6 linked regions of the Homo sapiens genome follow. The protein of the gene in region 4 purifies or fractionates together with the protein of the main gene of each other region. This does not show direct contact. Each region holds a gene or a part of one and is shown on either strand. Other genes may lie near its edges.

Region 1 (4,128 bases), on a different chromosome or scaffold from region 4:
AAAAGAAGTCAAGAGGATGAAGATCCCACAGTGGGGAAAGCTGACAGTATTAAGGGTCCCTTAATCTGGCTGGACTGCATGCATTAAGGACTGAGGTAAACGGATCTGACGTACAGTCCTGCTCAGCCTCTTGGCTGGGTGACCTTGGGTACACTGTCCCACCAGGATCTGTTTGTTCATCTATAAAATGAAAAGGTTGGACTCAGGTTTCTTCTGCCTCAGATGTTCCATAAGACTAGGAGGCTGCGCTGCCTAAAGTTCGTGCACCTAGAGTGCTGCCTCTGGTTTCACCAACATGGAAATATTAACAGGCCAGAGCCCAAGTCAAGAACTCAAGAGGACACGCCTCTTCCTCCTGCCAGAGTACCTTGGACAAAAGTATTCACTGCTAAGCACGTAGAACTGAATTCTTCAGTCTAAGACGGAGGTCCCATTTCTCTCTTTTTTTTTTTTTTTTTTTAGACAGAGTCTCACTGTTTTGCTCAGGCTGGAGTGCAGTGGCGTGATCTAGGCTCACTACAACCTCCACCCCTGGGTTCAAGCTGGAACTACAGGCATGTTCCACCATGCCCAGCTAATTTTCACATTTTTAGTAGAGACGGGGTTTCACTGTGTTGGCCAGGCTGGTCTCGAACTTGTGATCCTCCTGCCCCAGCCTCCCAAAGTGCTGGGATTACAGGCGTGAGCCACCACGCCTAGCCTGATCCCATTTCTTTCTACATCAGACAGTAGCCACTGTAGATACTGATACTGTCGACAGTCAACATTCCCTGATCTGGGATGTTCATCCTATGTAGTTCCTTTTTTTTTTTTTTTTGAGACAGAGTCTCCCTCTGTTGCCCAGGCTGGAGTGCAGTGGCATGTTCTCAGCTAACTACAACCACTGCCTTCCAGGTTCAAGCGATTCTCCTGACTCAGCCTCCCAAGTAGCTGGGACTACTACAGACGCACACCACCATGCCCAGCTAAAATATGTGTGTGTGTGTATATATATATATATATTTTTTTTTTTTTTCTTTTTTTGAGGGGGAGTCGCGCTCTGTCACCCAGGCTGGAGTGCAATGGCGCGGTCTCGGCTCAGTGCAACCTCCACCTCCCAGGTTCAAGCGATTCTCCTGTCTTAGCCTCCCAAGTAGCTGGGACTACAGGCGCATGCCACCACGTCGGCTAATTTTTTGTATTTTTAGTAGAAACGGGGTTTCACTGTGTTCCCTAGGCTGGTCTCGAACTCCTGAGCTCAGGCAATCCACCTGCCTCGGCCTCCCAAAGTGCTAGGATTACAGGCATGAGCCACTGTGCCCGGCCTAATTTTTATATTTTTAGTAGAGACGGGGTTTCACCATGTTGGTCGGGGTGCTATGGAGTTCTTTTGCACCCAGACATCTGGGGCCTCTATTGCCGAAGCAGGTGACAGCTTTCTGCCCTCAGACTCTGGTCTACTCCATGTGATCACTCCAATAAATTAACCCTGGGAGACCCTTTGCAAATTAGGCTAGGCTTGATATTAAACGTGGCCACCAAAATTCTGGGCCACAGGGAGCCCACAGAAAGGACTCTAAGGTCCCAGAACTACTAGGTTCAAACAATTCCTTAAGTTCATTGAATGTGCACAGCATATCCAAGTCAAACCGTTTCATTAAAAAATAAAACACTGAGCACTTCTATGTTGAAGCTATTGCTTTTGCATATTGTTGTCGTCTCAAAAATCCTATCAGGTGGACAAGACAGGCACCTTTGGGACCATGTTACAGAAGCAACGGGTGGCATCAAGGGATGAGGTGACTTGCCTAGGGTCACAGAGCTAATAACCGAAAGAGAGTTGGGGCCACAATTCAGATCTTCCTACTCCTAGTCCAGGGCTCTGGAATGACTGCAAGAGCAAAGATCCCAGCCCTCACCAACAGGCTGGACAGGGGGAGATTAGCAGCTCCCCATCTCTTTCTTATCTCGGCCTGGCAGTGGCCTCCACCAGCTCTGCAGTTTGTCTGTGCACAAGCCCAGGGCTCGGCAAGCAGGCTCGTAATGGAAAGGCCCACGGCGGCCTCCCACCCACGGTAGTAATTCAGTAGGTGTGTCACAGCTGGGGACTTGGAGCGTTGGCTGTGGCTGGGAGACCACTATAACACAAAAAGAAGGCGCACTTCTAAGACGTTTGTGTGCAGTTCGGAGGCTTGGCTGATACTCTCTCCTATGAATCAAAAGTGGAACGTGTCTTCCCAAAGGGGCCGTATCTGCATCCGCCTCAGCCCAGCCTCGAATGAAAGGACCCCGTCTGTGTAGACGAACGTTCTTGGTCTGGGTCACTAAATCTAGAGCCGTGCATCCCAGGCCTGATGGGAATCCCACCCAGATGCCCGCAGGGACCGGAGTTCCGTTCCAAACAATCCTTCCACTCTTAACCCAGTATCACCGCTCTCTGATTTCCCCATTCCTTCCGGAGGGCAACCGAGCTACTGGCCCTTTAAAAGCTACTCGGACCAAAAAAAAAAAAAAAAAAAAAAAAAAAAAGATAGCCGTTCTGACCAATAGACGACTGAGGATGGCAACCTGGGGCCAATCGCTGCACGGCTCGTCCAGAAGCCCAAAGTGTGCTGGTCACCGGCTCAGCACTCACCGCCGTTGCAGCCGCATTGCCGTTACCAGACATGGCTCCGCTTGGAAAGTAGGCTGTGTGTGGGTGCCGCTAAGGTCCCCCGGCCCCGGGAAGCCGGGGGCTCCGGCCGGCGAGTACCGGGGACACGTGGGACCCGAGGTCGTCCTACAGTCTGACTCCTGGTCTCCGCAGAGCCTCGCGTCACTTCCGGCGCCCTCCCTCGAAGGGGAGGTCCCTCCCTCTGGGCGGGAATTGGAACATTGCGACAGTGGACCTCCCCATTCGACCACCCCATTCCCCAGCTGTGACATGAGCAAGTAGTGCAGCTTCTATGGCGCTTCCTTTGCTCTGTTCAAACTTAGCTTTGCTACAACCTTGAAATAGGCAGCATTTTTCTTTTTGATACGGGGTCTCACTGTGTCCCCAGACTAGAGTGCAGCGGCATGACCACGGGTCACTGCAGCCTTGACCTCCCGGCTTCAGCGATCCCCCCACCTCAGCCTCCCAAGCAGCTGGGACTACAGGCGCACATCACCACGTGGGACTAATTTCTAGATTTTTTTATAGAGACAGCGGGGAGGTGGCCTCACTATGTTGCCCAGGCTAGTCTCGAACTCCTGGACTCAAGCAGTCATCTCGCCTTGGCCTCCCAAAGTGCTGGGATTACAGGCGTGAGCCACTGGCCCAGCCAGCATTTCAATTCTTAAAATGAGGAAACTGGTTCAGAGAGATTAAAGGTCATGCCTAAAGACAAGTAACTGAAGTGGGAGCACAAACGCTACATGTAGTGAGAAAAGGGCTTGTTAGGAAAAGTGCTTTCCCATGAACATAATTTTTTTTTTTTTTTTGAGACGGAGTTTCGCTCTTGTTGCCCAGGCTGGAATGCAATGGCACGATCTCAGCTCACTGCAACCTCCGCCTCCCGGGTTCAAGCAATTCTCCTGCCTCAGCCCCCCGAGTAGCTGGGATTACAGGCACGCACCACCACACCCAGCTAATTTTGTATTTTTGGTAGAGATGAGGTTTCTCCATGTTAGTCAGGCAGGTCTTGAACTCCTGACCTCAGGTGATTCGCCCACCTCGGCCTCCCAAAGTGCTGGGAGTACAGGCGTGAGCCACCGCGCCTGTAATCATGAACATAATTAACAATCATGATTATTAATAATCACCCAGCTAGGTGCAGTGGCTCACACCTATATTCCCAGCACTTTAGGAAGCCAAGGCAGGAGGATTGCTTGAGCCCAGGAGTTTGAGACCACCCTGGGCAACATGGTGAAAACCTCATCTCCACAAAAAATACAAAAATAGCCAGGTGTGGCGGCACACACCTGTAGTCCCAGCTATTCAGGAGGCTGAGGTGTGAGGATCGCTTGAGCCCAGGAGGTCGAGGTAGCTGTGAGCTGTGGTGGTGCCACTGCACTCTAGCCTGGATGACAGAGTGAGACGCCCATTTTTTTTTTTTTTTTTTTTTGAGATGGAGTTTCACTCTTGTTGCCCAGGCTGGAGTGCAATGGTGCAATCTCAGCTCACCGCAA
Region 2 (3,500 bases), on a different chromosome or scaffold from region 4:
GGTGACAAGACCGAAACTCCATCTCAAATATATGTGTGTGTGTGTGTGTGTGTGTGTGTGTGTGTGTGTGTTTATAAAATTCCTGAAATACCAACACTGGCAAATTCCTGCTTTCTTTAAGGGAAGCTACTTAAATATCAGTTTTAACGGAGCTAAAATTACATTGATATAATTAAGAAAACAAATGTGGCCTGAAACAATAGTGAAGACTATTTTTTGCTGCTTTTTACCTAAATGCAATGACAAATACCCTTTTTTGCACATAGGTGTTCAAAAATACCTTTTGAATAATAAAAAAATAAATTACTAGTAAAACAAAAGAGAGCTCTAAAAAGTATCTGATTTTAAATTTTAAGACTAATTTTTAAAAGGCCACTTGGTGGCACTATAGTATCATGTCCTTTAAGGAAGTAGTGAGGAGGGTTTTTTTTTAATTACATAAAAGAATAAGAATTTTGAAAGTATTTTGAATCTCTCCCTTTATAGATTATAAAACAGTACAGTTGGATATAGTTGCAGAAATCCTGCTTAATCTGAATGGAAAAGATGACATCACTATACACAGTTTCATAAATTGTCTAGTAGTTTGTATAATGCAGCACTCACACAATTTATGTGGTTTTGGGCCCAGCCATTTAATAGCAAAAAGAGAGAGTCACAAGTGTATGGAACACATAATTCTATAAAAATGAGCATCACCTATAACATTGTTACATTAGTTAAAAAAAATTGATTCCATGATTTTAGTCTTAGAATCAGTGTTGCAGTCCAGAGGTAGCTGAATCAAATTCATGTTAAAAAAAAAATTGGTGAAAAAGCCTGTTGATATATCTACTCACAACCTGTATAGATTAAGTAGCCTTGAAAGACAAACAGTATCCTTGTGGTAATTGCATCCTTTCCTCTTCAAAGAAGACAATAAAAATCTGTGGACAGCTTAACATTTCACGACTCTCTTTTATAGCTTGAACTTGCCTATTTAGTTTTTCATTAGAGTAAATAACATTCCATGTTGGATGGGATTTTCTTAAGTGAGATGAAACTAGAAAGTGCTTTTCTTCCTTTCTCCATTCCTTTTTATATAGGTGTTCCTCAAACTCTCCATCTGTAGGGTGGCCAGTATTTGTATAAGACAGACAGTGCATACAAAATTTTTCAGATGAAAAGGGTTCAGCTAGCAACTTTATCTATTTTATTTTTATGAGACAATTTTATTTTTTATCAAACCCACCCCATATAAAGATGCTGTAACATACTTTATATTAAGGTTGAGAGAGCTTGTCTATTTTACAGAATTTGATATAATCCAGGCTCTAGCATGGAGCCTAATAATAAGCACCTGTGGAATTAAAAACATTTTTTAGAGAAAAACATTAGAAGTTTTATAAACTGGTATTATGGGCCACTGACTATTTTTTATGGAAAAATCATCTCCTATTTTCTACAAGTTATTCAGAAAAATTAGAGAAAATAGCTGTAAATGTAGTCAGTACTTGCTGATGCAGACCAGAAGTTGCAAACAGGAAGCTACAAACTATATTCAACCTACAGATATATTTGATTTGGACTGCAAGTTGTTTTTCAAAAGCAGGTGATTGGTTATTCTGCAAAAAAAGTCCAGATTACTAGCTTCTCTGGAAAAACAGGGCCTTGGCCACAGGGGCCAATGGTAGCAATCCTCTTTAGATGAGCCTTGGTTCCCTAATTTGTCAGTCCCCACCACTGATGCGAGTCCCTAGGAGGCATGTCCACATGGGCTGGGACTCTTATTACAGCAATGTGAAAAGTGGCATGTCTTTGCCAACAGATAAACTGTAAGGATCAATATTTAAGAAAATAATATTTTTTAAAAAGGAAAAATATTAATCTATTTCTTTGTGGAAGCAAAAAAAAAATCATATAAGTTGAATATGTAAACAAAGTATATCTGGATCAAAAGAATATAACCCTAGATGCCACTATGAAACCAACCTGGCCAGCTTATCTCACTTCCGTTGCCTGCTTAGTGTTTGGGCATCTGTTTTTGCAGTCTCTTCCCCTACACTTCAAATTAAGATCTTATGTTTAAGATTTCTATATCAATATAATGATGTATAATATATAAATGCAATTATATGGTTATTAATTATAAGAAATTTATAATTCTAACTTTAAAATGAGGAAAGATATGCTCAGTCTTATTTTTTCTCTATAGATTGGAATACAGATTTAAATCACTACCTTTCTCACTAAAATTTAAAGGACATAAATGAGCTTTTAAAATATTAATGACATGTAAATAATGATAGATAATTTTAAATGTAAAAACATCTGAGTTTTCTAGATTGAGTCAACTGATTAACAAAGTTACCACCTTTAGTATAAGTCATAAAATATTGTATTTGATTTAAACATTGCAACTATAAGGAACAGCTACAGTCCTAGGAAAGGTACAGGGAAGATTAGATACTGATTTGATTTCAATTAATCATTTGATGATGGTCTACTCTTTAAATATAGAAACTCTTTTTTTTTTTTTTTTTTTTTTGAGACAGACTCTCACCCTGTCACCCAGGCTGGAGTGCAATGGCATGATCTCAGCTCACTGCAGCCTCTGCCTTCTGAGCTCAAGTGATCCTCCCACCTGAGCCTCCTGAGTAGCTGGGACTACACACACAGGACACCATGCTTAATTTTTAAAATTTTTTGTAGAGACCAGGTCTTACTATATTTCCCAGGCTGATCTTGAACTCCTGGGCTCAAGTGATCCTCCCATCTTGGCCTCCCAAAGTGCTGGGATTACAGGTGTGTGCCACTGCACTCAGCATGTTAAACTAATTAATCTGGGTTGTGACTCCCTATTGCCTAGTACTAAAGTATACCTTTTTTAGTAAACTATTCTAAACCTAGCTTTCCATGGTGTGCTATCAACTTACCTCACTATTTCCTTTTATTGCACCCTTTATAGCTCAAATGTAAACTCATTATTCTGTACATGTATTCATTATTTTGTATACATCCCTTACCTCTAATGTAAATTCTACCCATTCTTTACAATTCAAATCAATTATTACTTCTTCTATGAAACATTTTCTGATCCTCTGAATTAGAGGAAAAATCTTCTCTATATTTTCAACGTTCACCACATTCTATCATGCGTACATATTTTTACACACACACACTCACTCACTCTCCCTCTCCTAATCTAAAACTCCTTGAGGGCAAAAGCCATTATTTGTTTATTCACCAAATATTTATTCTAGCTCTCTGCCAGACAGCTGTGGAGATGTAATGCTCAACAAGATGTTACAGTGTCTAGTCTTTGGGAAGACTGTATTTTAAGGCTCCCATGGGGACAGGAACAGTAGAATACAGAAGGTACCTTGAGAGGTTAAGGAAGATTTCCCAGTGGAAGTGATGCCTGAAGTGAGGCCTAAAGCTGCTGCTTTGCCCAGGCTGGAGTGAAGTGACATGATCATAGCTCATGGCAACCTCAAACTCTCAGGCTCAGGTGATCCTCC
Region 3 (3,500 bases), on a different chromosome or scaffold from region 4:
ACACTAAAATTTGATATTCATATAATTTTCATGTGTTACAAAATATACTTTTTCTTTTTTTTCCAACCACTGAAAAATGTAAAAAGCATTCTCAGCTATACCTATACAGAAACAGGAGAGCGGAGAGGGTAACACAGAGGGCAGATTTGGGCTCCAGCTTCCTGCTGTAAACAATTCTCACACCAGAAAAGACCTTTGTCACTCAGCTGTTCTGAAGAACTTAGCAGAATTGGCCAGGGTGGGGCTGGTCAGTGAGTGGAGTCTGTGCATTGTGAGTTTCTCAGTCAAATAATGTGTATCCATATCAAATGTAAGTTATCAATGGCCCAATGCCCATCTACCCGCTAGAGGCCATGACTGAATATGCTTGGGTTCTTTCTACATGGAAAATCTACAGTCACCTGGCTTATGTAAACTTGGGAATACTTACACTAGGATCCTATTAACCAAACCAGAGTAAAAGCATACATTGGCCATTTCTAACTTAGCTTACCCTGCTGTGAAAAAGATTTCAGCCCAAATCTTATTTTTCCAAATTACTTCTGCAGCAAGTAGTGTATACCCTGCTGAGTAAAGGACTGCCTGCTTTGTTTACAATAAAGAAAACTGCTTGTTTTTTTTCAAATTCAGATTTTTATTTGAACAATCTTTGAGTTTTTAAATGCCAATTTATGCCCTTAAAGTATGAATTTCTGCTGAGACCCTTCCTCAGTTCTGTATTACATACTTTGCAATGGCCCCTACCTTTAGGTATCTATTTGATTTAACTGGCCAAGTTGCAGTTTTCTTTCCCCTTGTTTGGCTTTTTTCTTTCCCAGAGCCATCACAACAGCTAAGCAGTGAATCATCCTGCCCTTTGACAATCTTATCTGATTATTGCCATGGCCCTAAAAACTAGCCTAACCACTTTGTGGCCTTATTATCTGATAAAACAGATATCTTATTATCTGTGTTGAGCCTGCTGCTAACCAATGTGCTACCTGGAAACTTAATCATAGAATTTTGCAGTAGAAGGAACCTTGGAGATCATCTAAGACCAACCTCCTCGATACTCAGATGAGAAAGGTAAAGGATGAGAAGTTGTGACTTGCTCAAGGTCACACTGGTGAAGTGGGACAAAAACCTAAAGTGCCTGACTTAACGACCCCAAATTGGTGTTCTCCTCTTTAGAGTCAAGTGTGGAGCTGGTTCAAAGGTGGGAAAAAATGTTTTAGCCCCATACATAAATGCCAATGAAATACACTTCCGTCTATAGAGTTTCTGCTAGTCTTGTGAAATAAAAAAAAAGAAAAAACCCTTGATGACCTTTCAATTAATATCTGGGGTGAAAATACAATTAAAGTATCCCTAAAGAATAAAAATGGCATCGGCAAATTGGCAACTTCTACACCACGCAGCCAATAAGCAACTTCTGCAGTGCCATTTTTCTGTCTCTTTTAAACTTCCATTTAAAATTCAGAATATCTGTAGTGCCAGATCAGTCCCACTGCTTAACATCTAGGTCATTTGGCCTGTAATTATATGATTCCTTACAGGGAGGCCTTAGTGTTAATATCCCCTGTCATACTAGGATACTCACAAAACAAAATTTGATTTTTTTATCCTTTTTTGGCAAAGAGTTGGAAAAAGTGAAGCAATAATGAAATGTATTTCAGCAATTCTAAGACGCACTCCTCACAACTACCACACATATATTTGAAGACCTCTGGTACCAATAATGTGTTACAGTTTAATTGGGAGCCTTTTATTTTTCTTTTTCAGTAATACTAAAATAATGGAGCATTTTATCTTCAAGAGCATCTTAGATTCAATGAAATACGGTAGTTAAAAAATGGGTTACTGACTCCAGGAACAGTTTTGGATATAGGAAATTTATCATACATGTGTAGGGCTGTCGTCCTTTTCTCTAACTCTGTTAAATGTGTGACCTGCAGTCTGATCTACCAAACATTGGTTTAATAGCACTAAGATGTTTTCATTATGAAAAAGAAGACTTTTTCAAAAGAGCACACAAAAGCAATGAAAATGAATCATGATGGAAAACAATGGGTCCACACACCTATTCATACTGTTAACATTTCACCACTAGGCGTGAATTCTCCCTCAGTTCTGTGTCATAGTCATTCATAATGAGGAAGTATTAGCATTTCAGTAGAACATTCAATCACGCCTGTGCTCAGAATGCATTTCTTCTGCAAATACAGATGTTATACATTATAAATTCCTGTTTATGAAGGGATGATTGAATATCTACCTGCCAGTTCATATAATGACATTTTTGTTATTGTTGTTTCCAATAGAATGTAATTTTTTTTCTGAGAATTACAAATTTGAGTTCAGGTACAAATTTTTGAAATAACAAATACAATATTTGTTATTTCGTTTTCTGATCCACGCAGTTAGGCAAGAATAAAATCTTACTTTAATTTCTGAGACTAAGCTTGTTTTTTTTAAAAAAAAAAAAAACTTAAATGTATTTTGTTGAATTATTTTCTGAATTATCAAATTTCAAGTAAATCTGCCTTCACCACATTTGCAAAACAGTTTCTATCTTTAAAAGTATGATAGAGTAAGCTAGAAAGTAATAACTGGAAATGAAGCACTTACGTTTATAAAATACTGCTTTAAAAGTTATGTGGGGCAGAAGTTCATAGATCTTTTCTAAAACAGTCGCTTCACCCACTAAAGAGGCATTTACATTCCAGACTTGGACGACGTCTTCTCGGTCCCGAACACTGACACTAACTCCTATTACTTCATCATCTGAGGGGAAGACAGGAAAAAAAAAAAATGAGTGATACTTCCAAGTCAGTCTGACTGTTTCTAAGAACTTAGTCTTTTTATCTGAAAATTAAGGATAAGATGGAAAAAAGAAGGTGGCACAAGATAACTTGTAAGAAATAATTGTTTCTATGGGGAATCACTGGAGGAAAGCAAGTCAGTGCACAAAAGCTGTAGCAGTCACATCACATTTATCCAGGGACTTAGATAAAGTGTTCCAGCCAAATGCATTTTCCAGATAAGTAATTTACCCTTTTTAACATTACCAAAGCTTTGTGACTATTTCTTACTCTGTTTTGATGAGACTTTTTCTAAAATGGGTTGCATAATTCCCTGCCCTCTGAAAGCCAAGTGAACTGAAATGAACTTTTCCTTGATGCCTTGCTGTCTTTGTTAAGGAGAGCAAGAATTTCTCCTGACTTCCTGCCAAGCTTTCAGGGACCTTGGAGTGGTCAGCGCTATCTGCCCCAACACGAACTGGAGCCAGATTGTGCATTCTCGACTGCTCATCTGCTTTCTGCGGTTTACTTGTCTGCTCCTTTCCTATGAATTCTTCCTGCTTCCTGATGCCTCCCTCTAGAAATCCCTTTTCTGGTTTTGGGCATTATATACTGTGGGCTAGAGAGCCAATGACCATCTGTTAGCACTGTGTATAGAGTGAGAGTAAAATCTTCTGAGTACAGCTCTGCTATTATAGGATCGTCCTTCAATGAATGAAC
Region 4 (3,500 bases):
CTGAAAGGTCAAGAAATTTATAAGTTCTGAACGTATGCTGTATGAAACATAGTTGGTAGTCCTGAATAACTGCATGCCCATATATGGATCTGATTATCACATAAAACTTGTAGAATCCCTGTGTAAAATTTTCAACACTGAAAGTATAGAAACCACTTGAGCAAGTGATTGGAAAAAAGTTTTCACAAAACACAACCAGTTAATCAGGAAAAGTAGGGAAGGAAGTAGAGGAATGAACTATTAATAGGTTCCTGCTATTGAAGTAGTTTGCTTACATAATCATTATAACAGGGAGAGTTGGAGCATTTAGAAGCATAATTCTAGGTAGTTCTTGTAAAACATTGTGTAATTCAAATTTTTTAGCTTGAGCATGTGGGAGCCTGCCAGTTCAGGTACAGACATTCAACTGTGTCTTGGCATAACCTGTGATATTAAGTGCATTTGATTTTTCTTTCTCAGGTAAGCCAAAGCTTAAATGTCTTTGTTTAAAAAAAATTTGGCTAATAATATAAATCTTAGATGAGTAGATGAGGAAGGGTAACCTGAGAATCTAGTTCATTGTCTAGAGTAAGTCATCTACTTTTTAGCCAATTTTTCATTACCCTATTTTGGAATAATACTTCAAGTTTAATCTGTTGATTATAGGCTGAATTTCTTATATATGTGGATTTGGGTCTGCTAAAATTTTTAACCTTACCTTTGTGAGAAATTTTAAATGTGAAAAGGGTATGTGTGAAAAGACCTCACTTTTGTTTTTATGTATTATTTATTTATTTATTTTTGAGATAGAGTCTCACTCTGTCACCCAGGCTGTAGTGCAGTGGTGCGATCTCGGCTCACTGCAACCTTCACCTCCTGGGTTCACACCATTCTCCTGCCTCAGCCTCCCGAGTAGCTGGGACTACAGGCGCCCGCCACCATACCTGGCTAATTTTTTGTATTTTTGCTAGAGACGGGGTTTTAACTGTGTTAGCCAGGATGGTCTCGATCTCCTGACCTCGTGATCCTCCCACCTTGGCCTCCCAAATTGCTGGGATTACAGGTGTGAGCCACCGCGCCCGGCTATTTATTTTTTTTGAGACGGAGTCTTGCTCTGTTGCCCAGGCTGCAGTGCAGTGGTGCAGTCCGGCTTACTGCAACCTCTGTCTCCTGAGTTCAAGCAATTCTCCCACCTTAGCCTCCTGAGTAGCTGGGATTACAGGCAGGTGCCACCACGCCTGGCTAATTTTTGTATTTTTAGTAGAGACGGGCTTTCACCATGTTGGCCGGGCTGGTCTCCAACTCCTGGCCTCAAGTGATTTGCCCGCCTCAGCCTCCCAAAATGCTGGAATTACAGGCGTGAGCCACTGTGCCCGGCCTGTTTTTATTTTATTTTTTTGAGACAGTCTGGCTCTGTTGCCTGGGCTAGAGTGCAGTGGTGCCATCTGGGCTCACTGCAACCTCGGCCTCTTGGATTCAAGTAATTCTACCGCCTCAGCCTCCTGAGTAGCTGGGCCTACAAGTGTGTGCCACCATGCCTAGCTAATTTTTTGTCTTTTTAGTAGAGACTGGGTTTTATCATGTTGGCCAGGCTGGTCTCGAACTGACCTCAAGTCATCCACCCCTCTGTCTCCCAAAGTTCTGGGATTACAGGCGGGAGCCACTGCGCCTGGCCATATTTCTCATTTTACATCCTCCAGAAACCACTGTGCATTTCCTTTTCAGGTTATAACTGAGTAGTGGGATCTATTGATATTCCCAGATAGTTTGCCAAGAGGCTAGCACTATAAACTGGTAGTGAACCTTGCTTTTTGGTTTATGATTGAGGAACGGCTGTACAGACATTTGGGCTAGAACTTGAAATTTCCATTTCTTTTTGTTATTCTTGTTTTATTATCACCTGGTTTGTATAGGAAGTTGATAAAAGGATTATCTCAACACTCAGGACTTAAACAGTTTGTGAAATGCTAAGTTTTCTCTTTACTTAGTTGTAGTGCTAAAGCTAAGGCCCATATTCACTGTATCAGCTTAACTTTAAATGTTTAAACATTTCAGTTATTACACCAAAATTTCTTATGATATAAAAAATGCCCTTGTGTTTATAGGAAATCATCTGATGTGCTGCACACTTTTTTTTTTTTTCCTGGAGATGGAGTTTCACTCTTGTTGCCCACAGGCTGGAGTGCAGTGGTGCGATCTAAGCTCACTGCAACCTCCGCCTCCTGGGTTCAAGTGATTCTCCTGCCTCAGGCCTCCCAAGTAGACAGGGTTTCATCGTGTTGGCCAGGTTGGTCTCGAGCTCCTGACCTCAGGTGATCCACCCGCCTCCACCTCCCAAAGTGTAGGGATTACAGGTGTGAGCCACCGCGTCCGGCCTGCACACTCCTTTTTATAGTATATTTGAATTGCGTGACTAGGTGGGGGGAGGAAATAGCCTGATGTTAATTTTTTGTGTTTTGATTTGCCTTTTTTTTTCTTCCACAGAATAATGCATATACTGCCATGTCAGATTCCTACTTACCCAGTTACTACAGTCCCTCCATTGGCTTCTCCTATTCTTTGGGTGAAGCTGCTTGGTCTACGGGGGGTGACACAGCCATGCCCTACTTAACTTCTTATGGACAGCTGAGCAACGGAGAGCCCCACTTCCTACCAGATGCAATGTTTGGGCAACCAGGAGCCCTAGGTAGCACTCCATTTCTTGGTCAGCATGGTTTTAATTTCTTTCCCAGTGGGATTGACTTCTCAGCATGGGGAAATAACAGTTCTCAGGGACAGTCTACTCAGAGCTCTGGATATAGTAGCAATTATGCTTATGCACCTAGCTCCTTAGGTGGAGCCATGATTGATGGACAGTCAGCTTTTGCCAATGAGACCCTCAATAAGGCTCCTGGCATGAATACTATAGACCAAGGGATGGCAGCACTGAAGTTGGGTAGCACAGAAGTTGCAAGCAATGTTCCAAAAGTTGTAGGTTCTGCTGTTGGTAGCGGGTCCATTACTAGTAACATCGTGGCTTCCAATAGTTTGCCTCCAGCCACCATTGCTCCTCCAAAACCAGCATCTTGGGCTGATATTGCTAGCAAGCCTGCAAAACAGCAACCTAAACTGAAGACCAAGAATGGCATTGCAGGGTCAAGTCTTCCGCCACCCCCGATAAAGCATAACATGGATATTGGAACTTGGGATAACAAGGGTCCCGTTGCAAAAGCCCCCTCACAGGCTTTGGTTCAGAATATAGGTCAGCCAACCCAGGGGTCTCCTCAGCCTGTAGGTCAGCAGGCTAACAATAGCCCACCAGTGGCTCAGGCATCAGTAGGGCAACAGACACAGCCATTGCCTCCACCTCCACCACAGCCTGCCCAGCTTTCAGTCCAGCAACAGGCAGCTCAGCCAACCCGCTGGGTAGCACCTCGGAACCGTGGCAGTGGGTTCGGTCATAATGGGGTGGATGGTAATGGAGTAGGACAGTCTCAGGCTGGTTCTGGATCTACTCCTTCAGAACCCCACCCAGTGTTGGA
Region 5 (3,500 bases), about 71 Mb from region 4:
AGAAATTCAGTGTTCCTTCCTAGCTTTCCTTAAGTAAACTATGCAGGTAAATGTTTCCTTTTGCTAGTTGGACACAAGCATTGATTTGGTGGTAGTATTTATCACTATTGCATAATTAGCATAATTCTAACAATCTTTTGCAGTTGTTATGGAATACTGGGCTATAAAATATTTAACTAGCTAATTTTAAAATTTTAATTTAGGGAAGTTGATCACGTTTCTGATAATATGGAGTGCAATCATATTGGCTACTGTGAATACATAAAATGTTAATTTTTGTTATTTTTAGGTTGCTTTCAATATATTTTAGAAGTGACTGTGAAGGTGAATAGCTTATTACACATTATAGTGGTGTGTGCCTATAGTCCCAGCTACTCGGGCGGCTGAGGCAGGAGAATCACTTGAACCCAGGAGGTGGAGGTTGCAGTGAGCCGAGATCACACCACTGCACTCCAGCCTGGCGACAGAGTGAGACTCTGTCTAAAAAATAAATTAATTAATTAAATTAAATAAAAAATAAACATTAACATTATAGCATATTGAAGCCAGTCTAGCCTCATCGATTTAATTTTTATTATTTATAAAAATTATAAGTGTAAACATAAACATTGTCTATTTCTCTTTGAGCTCTTTACAATAACTTCTGAACAATGCCAATACTTATAGTATTAACTTCTATCTAATACAATCTTTGTAATTAAACTCATAATTTTCATCCTGCTTATAAGTTTTTTTTGTTATTTTTAGAAACCCTACAGTGGCACTGCTTATAAGATTTTTGATACCTTACTAGTGACCAGTGTCACTTAGGTGTTCTTTGGAAATGTGTGCTTACCTAAAAAATGTCTATTTCTATAATATTAAAGCAGTATTATAATATATATTTCAAGTCCTATGATGAAAAATTGATTTGATTTGGAGGGATTTAGTGAATATTAGTTAAGCTGGTAGAACATTGTTTAGTTCCAAAAAATGACGGCTTTATTTTATTGTGCTTTTAGCAATAGCAAAAAGAAATATGCTTCTAAGATTGTTACATGGCAGAAAAGAATGTTCAAACTTAATTTACTTAATTTTAAATTACAAAATCTAGGATTCTACTTGTTAGCTAATAGAGTTTCAAGTATTTTATTAATCTTTGTGCAAATGTTGTGTTTAACAGTTTGGAACCAATCTGATTTTTTATTATAAACCAGTGTTTATAATAAACAGCTAGATAGATAGCACCAGTGTTAAACGTAAATCACACAAGTGGAAATTGTAAGGTGTAAGAGTTTTTAAGAGTTATTTATCATCATCTGTAGGAGAAACTGGCTTCAGTCTGGTCAGACAAATCTAATCTTTCCAACAGCTAAGTAATTCACCAGCAGGGAATTTATGAATAATTATTTAGTCAACCACCTGGAAATTAAGTCTGATTAAAGTTTTAAAAATAAGCAAGCAGGCCCAGGCACGGTGGCTCACGCCTGTAATCCCAACACTTTTAGGCTCAGGCAGGCAGATCAGCTGAGGTTGGGAGTTTGCAACCAGCCTGACCAACATGGAGAAACCCCATCTCTACTAAAAATACAAAATTAGCTGGGTGTGGTGGTGCGTGCCTGTAATCCCAGCTACTCGGGAGGCTGAGGCTGGAGAATTTCTTGAACCTGGGAGGCGGAGGTTGTGGTGAGCTCACATCATGTCATTGCACTCCAGCCTGGGCAACAAGAGCGAAACTTGGTCTCAATAAATAAATAAATAAATAAATAAGCAAACAAAAAACAGGGAGAAAACCTAACAGAATTGTAGTGTTATGATTTACATTTAGTAATATGAAACTAACATTTTTCTTCTTCTTTTCCTCTCTCATGTCTCAATATCTTTGCAAAATCTAATCTTCCTTTTTAACCGTTTTCTTCTCTTGATAAATTCTCTTGTTTCTATGTGTTTTGGTATGTTTGATATCTTGCTGCATATTTTTCTATGTCAAATCATGCCTCCTTTTGTCTCTTTCCTTCCTCCTATCTTGCTTTTCTCTTTCTGTTACATTTATTTGTTACATTTGTCACTGTGCTTTTTACAGTACATGTTGGATGCTGCTAGGAATTTGCAACCCAATTTATATGTAGTAGCTGAACTGTTCACAGGAAGTGAAGATCTGGACAATGTCTTTGTTACTAGACTGGGCATTAGTTCCTTAATAAGAGGTAGGCTTGTTGGAGTGTATTTCCCTCTAAAACTTTAGCTTTTGTTTAAGTAGATTAAAGGATTTAATAGCTTCATATGCAATGCTTAATAATTTTTTAACACAGTTAATGTTCTTCTAAATACTTTGTATGACATATTCTAATATAACTCAGTCTATTTTTATCAGTATAAATTTCTACTTTGGGGTAAGATACCTCATTTCAAATTGAAAGACCAGTAGGATGAACTGAAGACTCACTAACAAAACCATTTTTTGTTGTTGAAAATATGCAAACCTGTTTTTCATCTTCTACTGGGAGATATGATGTAATGTTTAGATGTTTTATAATCAATTTTGTATAGCTTACATCCCAGTAAACAACATATGTTCCCTTTTCCTTACATGAGCCATTTCTCCAGTTAAGTTATGGGGAAAACTTTTTTGTCACTTAAACTAGTAGACATTTGTTTAAATCCTTAAAGCAGTTTTATTTTTTATAATATTGATGTGGTCTTTATTTTGAAAATCATTTATGAGAAGAAATCTAACCTCTTCCTGGACATAAATAATGAAGATTGTTAAAATATTCTGTAATGCTCTGCAGAGGCAATGAGTGCATATAATAGTCATGAAGAGGGCAGATTAGTTTACCGATATGGAGGAGAACCTGTTGGATCCTTTGTTCAGCCCTGTTTGAGGCCTTTAATGCCAGCTATTGCACATGCCCTGTTTATGGATATTACGCATGATAATGAGTGTCCTATTGTGGTAAGCACCTAATCTTTTTCATGTACTTATTTTGCTAAATGCTTTGATATTTAACTCTCTGACACTTGGTCACAATCATACCCATATACTTCAAAATAGTGTCTTAGATTTATAACTGATTTATAATACATAGTTTTCAGAATGTTTTACTTGTTTAAAAGCAAATTAATTTACCTTATGAATTTATTTATGTAATTATCCTTTTACTTCATTATGCTATAGAATAGCACTTTGCATTTGAAAGAAAGCAAACTTTTGCTTTGTTGTTGTTGTCTTCTAGCATAGATCAGCGTATGATGCTCTTCCAAGTACTACAATTGTTTCTATGGCATGTTGTGCTAGTGGAAGTACAAGAGGCTATGATGAATTAGTGCCTCATCAGGTTTGTTTATATGTTGTTTCTTAAAACCTACATGGCCAACAACTTTGGGCATTTTTATTAAAAAAAATTCATTGTAATTAAGATGTATCCATGCTAAATTTTACCTTTGTCCAGATTTCAGTGGTTTCTGAAGAACGGTTTTACACTAAGTGGAATCCTGAAGCATTGCCTTCAAACACAGGT
Region 6 (3,500 bases), on a different chromosome or scaffold from region 4:
AGTGCAGGTGTGAGGAGTCAGACGGAAAGAATGATCTACTTCCTCATGTCCCACCCCTCTTCTGCCCTCTCCTCCTCCAACGCCACCAATAACCTCCCAGGTACCACATACTCTGACCCCTAAGGGCCTGGCCCCAGGGTGGAAAGATGAAAACTGTCTGCCTTCAACGAGTATGGTGGTCCTCATCCTGCTTTACTGCTCTGCAACACATGACATCTCAACTGCCCCATCTCCAGAAACGGAGACTGAGAGGTTAAGGGACTTGCCCAAGGTCACAAACTAGAAAGCAGTAAAGCCAGGACCAGATCCCACACCTGCCTGACTCTAGGACTGGGGTTCTTTCCTGAAATCCTCTTCTGCTGGTTCTCAGTCACCATTCCCTCCTGACTTTCCTCCTACCTCTCTGACCACTCTTTCCTGGCCCTTTTCACTAAGACCCTCCTCCTTTGCCTTCCTCTTTCTGCCAGCTGGACTCCTCATCTTGTTTTGTATGTTGCTCCTCCAGGAACCTCCCATTGCTATAAGGAATATTCCCAAATCTCTTATCTCCAGCCCCATCCTAAGCTCCAGACCTGAATGTCAATTTGCATCCTGATGCTCAGGTCAACATCATCCTAGCCTCAACAAGTCCCAAACCTGCTTCTTCACCCATATTTATTATCCCAGAAAGGCACATCACCACCCACCCAGTTTCCTAGAAACCTTCTTATCTCCCGTATCAAATCAGTCACCATTCACTGCCACAAATAACTTTTAAAATGTCCCTTCATTCCCCTCTCCTCTGCCTTGGGTCACTTGGATTGGGTCAGGCTCTGATTCAGCCTCCCCAAGACTGCTGTAAATGGCCTCCTGCCTTATCTCTCCGCCCTCCTCTGCTTCCCGCAAGCCATCCTATTACTCGCTTTTGCATACTTATTAGAGTTATTTACATGTCAGTCTCCCCACTGGACCATAAACCTCCCCAAGGCAGGGGCTCTGTATGCTTCTGGCGTACACTCCCTAGAGCCTAGAAAAGGGCTTAACTACCCACATTTTCTGAATCAATGAATGAAGGAGTGACTGCCGACTCCATGAAAGCACTAAGCCAAAGTGGAAAGGGAATCATACTTCCAGTTTTTATTAGATGTATGTGTGTGTGTGTATCTGTGTGTGTGTGTGTGTGTGTGTACACATGTGAGTATTCATATACATGTATGAATAGAGAAAGCATTAAAGAAAACATATCAAAATATGGGCCCAGCACAGTGGCTCACATCTAAAATCCCAACACTTTTGGAGGCCAAAGCAGGAGGATCACTTGAGCCAGGGAGTTCAAAACCAACCTGGGCAACATAGTGAGATCGTGTCTCTACAAAAAAAGTTTTAACAATTAAAAATGAAAATATATCAAAATATTAAAACAGTAGTGCTTATTTATAGGTGCTGTGAAAAAGTTTCTATTTTCTTATTTATAATTTTCTTTATTCCTTTTTAAATTTGTTTTACTTTTTAATTAATTAATTAATTTTTTTTTTTTTTTTTTTTTGAGACAGAGTCTCACTCTATTGCCCAGGCTGGAGTGCAGTGGTGCGATCTGGGCTCACTGCAACCTCCACTTTCTGGGCTCAAGTGATTCTCATGCCTCAGCCTCCTGAGTAGCTGGGACTACAGGTGCATGCCAACACACCAGGCTGATTTTTGTATGAATTTTTTTTAGTAGAGATGAGGTTTCGCCATGTTGGCCAGGCTGGTCTCAAACTCCTGACCTCAACTGATCTGCCCACCTCGGCCTCCCAAAGTGCTGGCATTACAGGTGTGAGCCACCATGCCTGGCCTTTATTTATTTTTGAGACAGAGACTCACTTTGTTGCCCCGGCTGGAGTGTAGTGTCATGATCTCGGCTCACTGCAACTTCTGCCTCCTGGGCTCAAGTGATCCTCCCATCAGCCTCCTGAGTAGCTGGGACTGCAGGCATACACCACCACACCCAGCTAATTTTTGTATTTTTTGTAGAGACGGGGTTTTGCCATGTTGCCCAGCTGATCTTGAACTCCTGGACTTAAGTGATCCACTCGCCTCAGCCTCCCAAAGTGCTGGGATTATAGGTGCGAGCCACCATGCCCAGCCAAAAAAAGTTTTTGTATATATATTTTTTTCAGTTGAGACAGGGTCTCGCTATGTTGCCCAAGCTGGTCTCAAACTCCTTGGCTCAAGGAATCCTCTTGCCTCAGCATCAAAGTTCTAGGATTACAGGCATAAACCACCATACCTGGTCAATTTTCTTTATTTTTTAACACTGGTTACAGAATGAACAGATACTCAATTTTCTTTATTTCTTAAAATACCCTACAATATAAGGCACAAGTGTTTCAGATGAAAAATAATTAAAAAAAAAAAAAGCACACACATGGCAGGGCACAGTGGCTCACACCTATAATCCCAACATCTTGGGAGGTCAAGGCAGGAGGATCACTTGAGCCCGGGAGCTCAACACCAGCCTGGTCAACATAGCAAGACCCTATCTCTACAAAAAAAAAAAAAAAAAAAAGCAAAAAATGAGCTGGGCGCACACCTGTAGTCCCAGCTTCTCAGAGGCTGAGGTGGGAGGATCACCAGCCCATGAGTTCAAAGCTGCAGTGATCTACAATCATTCCAAGGCCATTCCAGCCTGGGCAATAGAGCAAGACCCTAGCTCTTAAAAAAGAAAAAAAAGTCAGGCACGGTGGCTCACGCCTGTAATCCCAGCACTTTAGGAAGCCAAAGCAGAAAGATCACTTGAGGTCAGGAATTTGAGACCATCCTGGCCAACATGTCAAAACCCCGTCTCTACTAAAAATATGAAAATTAGCCGGGCCTGGTGGCGCACGCCTGTAATCCCAGCTACTCGGGAGGCTAAGGCACGAGAATCACCTGAACCTGGTAGGCAGAGATTGCAGTGAGCCGAGATCACGCCACTGCACTCCAGCCTGGGAGACAGAGCAAGACTCTGTCTCAAAAAACAAAAAAAGAAAAGAAAAGAAAAAAAAAAAGGAGAGAAGATTTATTCCCATGTGGAAGGAAGGAGTTGGAGTAAGCCAAGTTTCCTTTATAATTCTAATCTACACATAGAATTGCTACACAGGAGAAGAATGGACTCTGGAGCCAAACCAGGTAGATCCAAATCCTGGCTCTGCCACTCATTAGCTGTGTGACCTTGGATGAGACATTTAACCCCTCTGTGCCTCAATTTACCCATCTGTAAAATAATGTGATAATAGTAGCTACATTTATAGGGTTCTTGTAAGGACTAAATGAGTTTATATATAATAGAGTGCTTAAAACATGACTGGGCACACAGGAAGCACTATATAAAGGTTAGCTATCATTATTACTAAACAAAGGGGAGGCTTACCTAAGACAAATCTGCAACTCTGCCTGGAAGAATCTTTCGATTGATCCTGGACTTGAACAGGCTGTCTGTAGAGAAAGACATCAGAACATGAAGATCCCGCCCCACCCCTGCAGCCTCCACCCCCACTAGA

The links.
Region 1: the proteins of YTHDF2 (region 4) and HMBS fractionate together in Homo sapiens (co-fractionation; one large-scale study listed by BioGRID). This does not show direct contact.
Region 2: the proteins of YTHDF2 (region 4) and STK38L purify together in Homo sapiens (pull-down; one large-scale study listed by IntAct). This does not show direct contact.
Region 3: the proteins of YTHDF2 (region 4) and EIF4E3 purify together in Homo sapiens (affinity purification with western blotting, with the first as the bait; one study listed by BioGRID). This does not show direct contact.
Region 5: the proteins of YTHDF2 (region 4) and AGL fractionate together in Homo sapiens (co-fractionation; one large-scale study listed by BioGRID). This does not show direct contact.
Region 6: the proteins of YTHDF2 (region 4) and IRAK2 purify together in Homo sapiens (co-immunoprecipitation; one large-scale study listed by IntAct). This does not show direct contact.

What each region holds. Positions count from the first base shown.
Region 1 is NC_000011.10:119,083,553-119,087,680, reverse strand, and holds the start of HMBS (porphobilinogen deaminase), read right to left. Parts: upstream 2,801-4,128; 5' UTR 2,648-2,800; coding exon 2,615-2,647; exon of another isoform or gene 2,524-2,614; intron 1,871-2,523; exon of another isoform or gene 1,788-1,870; intron 1-1,787.
Region 2 is NC_000012.12:27,303,286-27,306,785, reverse strand, and holds part of STK38L (serine/threonine-protein kinase 38-like), read right to left. Parts: intron 1-3,500. UniProt on the Homo sapiens protein: Involved in the regulation of structural processes in differentiating and mature neuronal cells.
Region 3 is NC_000003.12:71,687,403-71,690,902, forward strand, and holds part of EIF4E3 (eukaryotic translation initiation factor 4E type 3), read right to left. Parts: intron 2,764-3,500; coding exon 2,608-2,763; intron 1-2,607. UniProt on the Homo sapiens protein: Recognizes and binds the 7-methylguanosine-containing mRNA cap during an early step in the initiation of protein synthesis. May act as an inhibitor of EIF4E1 activity.
Region 4 is NC_000001.11:28,739,940-28,743,439, forward strand, and holds part of YTHDF2 (YTH domain-containing family protein 2), read left to right. Parts: intron 1-2,463; coding exon 2,464-3,500. UniProt on the Homo sapiens protein: Specifically recognizes and binds N6-methyladenosine (m6A)-containing RNAs, and regulates their stability. M6A is a modification present at internal sites of mRNAs and some non-coding RNAs and plays a role in mRNA stability and processing.
Region 5 is NC_000001.11:99,877,861-99,881,360, forward strand, and holds part of AGL (glycogen debranching enzyme), read left to right. Parts: intron 1-2,062; coding exon 2,063-2,186; intron 2,187-2,771; coding exon 2,772-2,935; intron 2,936-3,215; coding exon 3,216-3,317; intron 3,318-3,431; coding exon 3,432-3,500. UniProt on the Homo sapiens protein: Multifunctional enzyme acting as 1,4-alpha-D-glucan:1,4-alpha-D-glucan 4-alpha-D-glycosyltransferase and amylo-1,6-glucosidase in glycogen degradation.
Region 6 is NC_000003.12:10,213,419-10,216,918, reverse strand, and holds part of IRAK2 (interleukin-1 receptor-associated kinase-like 2), read right to left. Parts: intron 3,436-3,500; coding exon 3,371-3,435; intron 1-3,370. UniProt on the Homo sapiens protein: Binds to the IL-1 type I receptor following IL-1 engagement, triggering intracellular signaling cascades leading to transcriptional up-regulation and mRNA stabilization.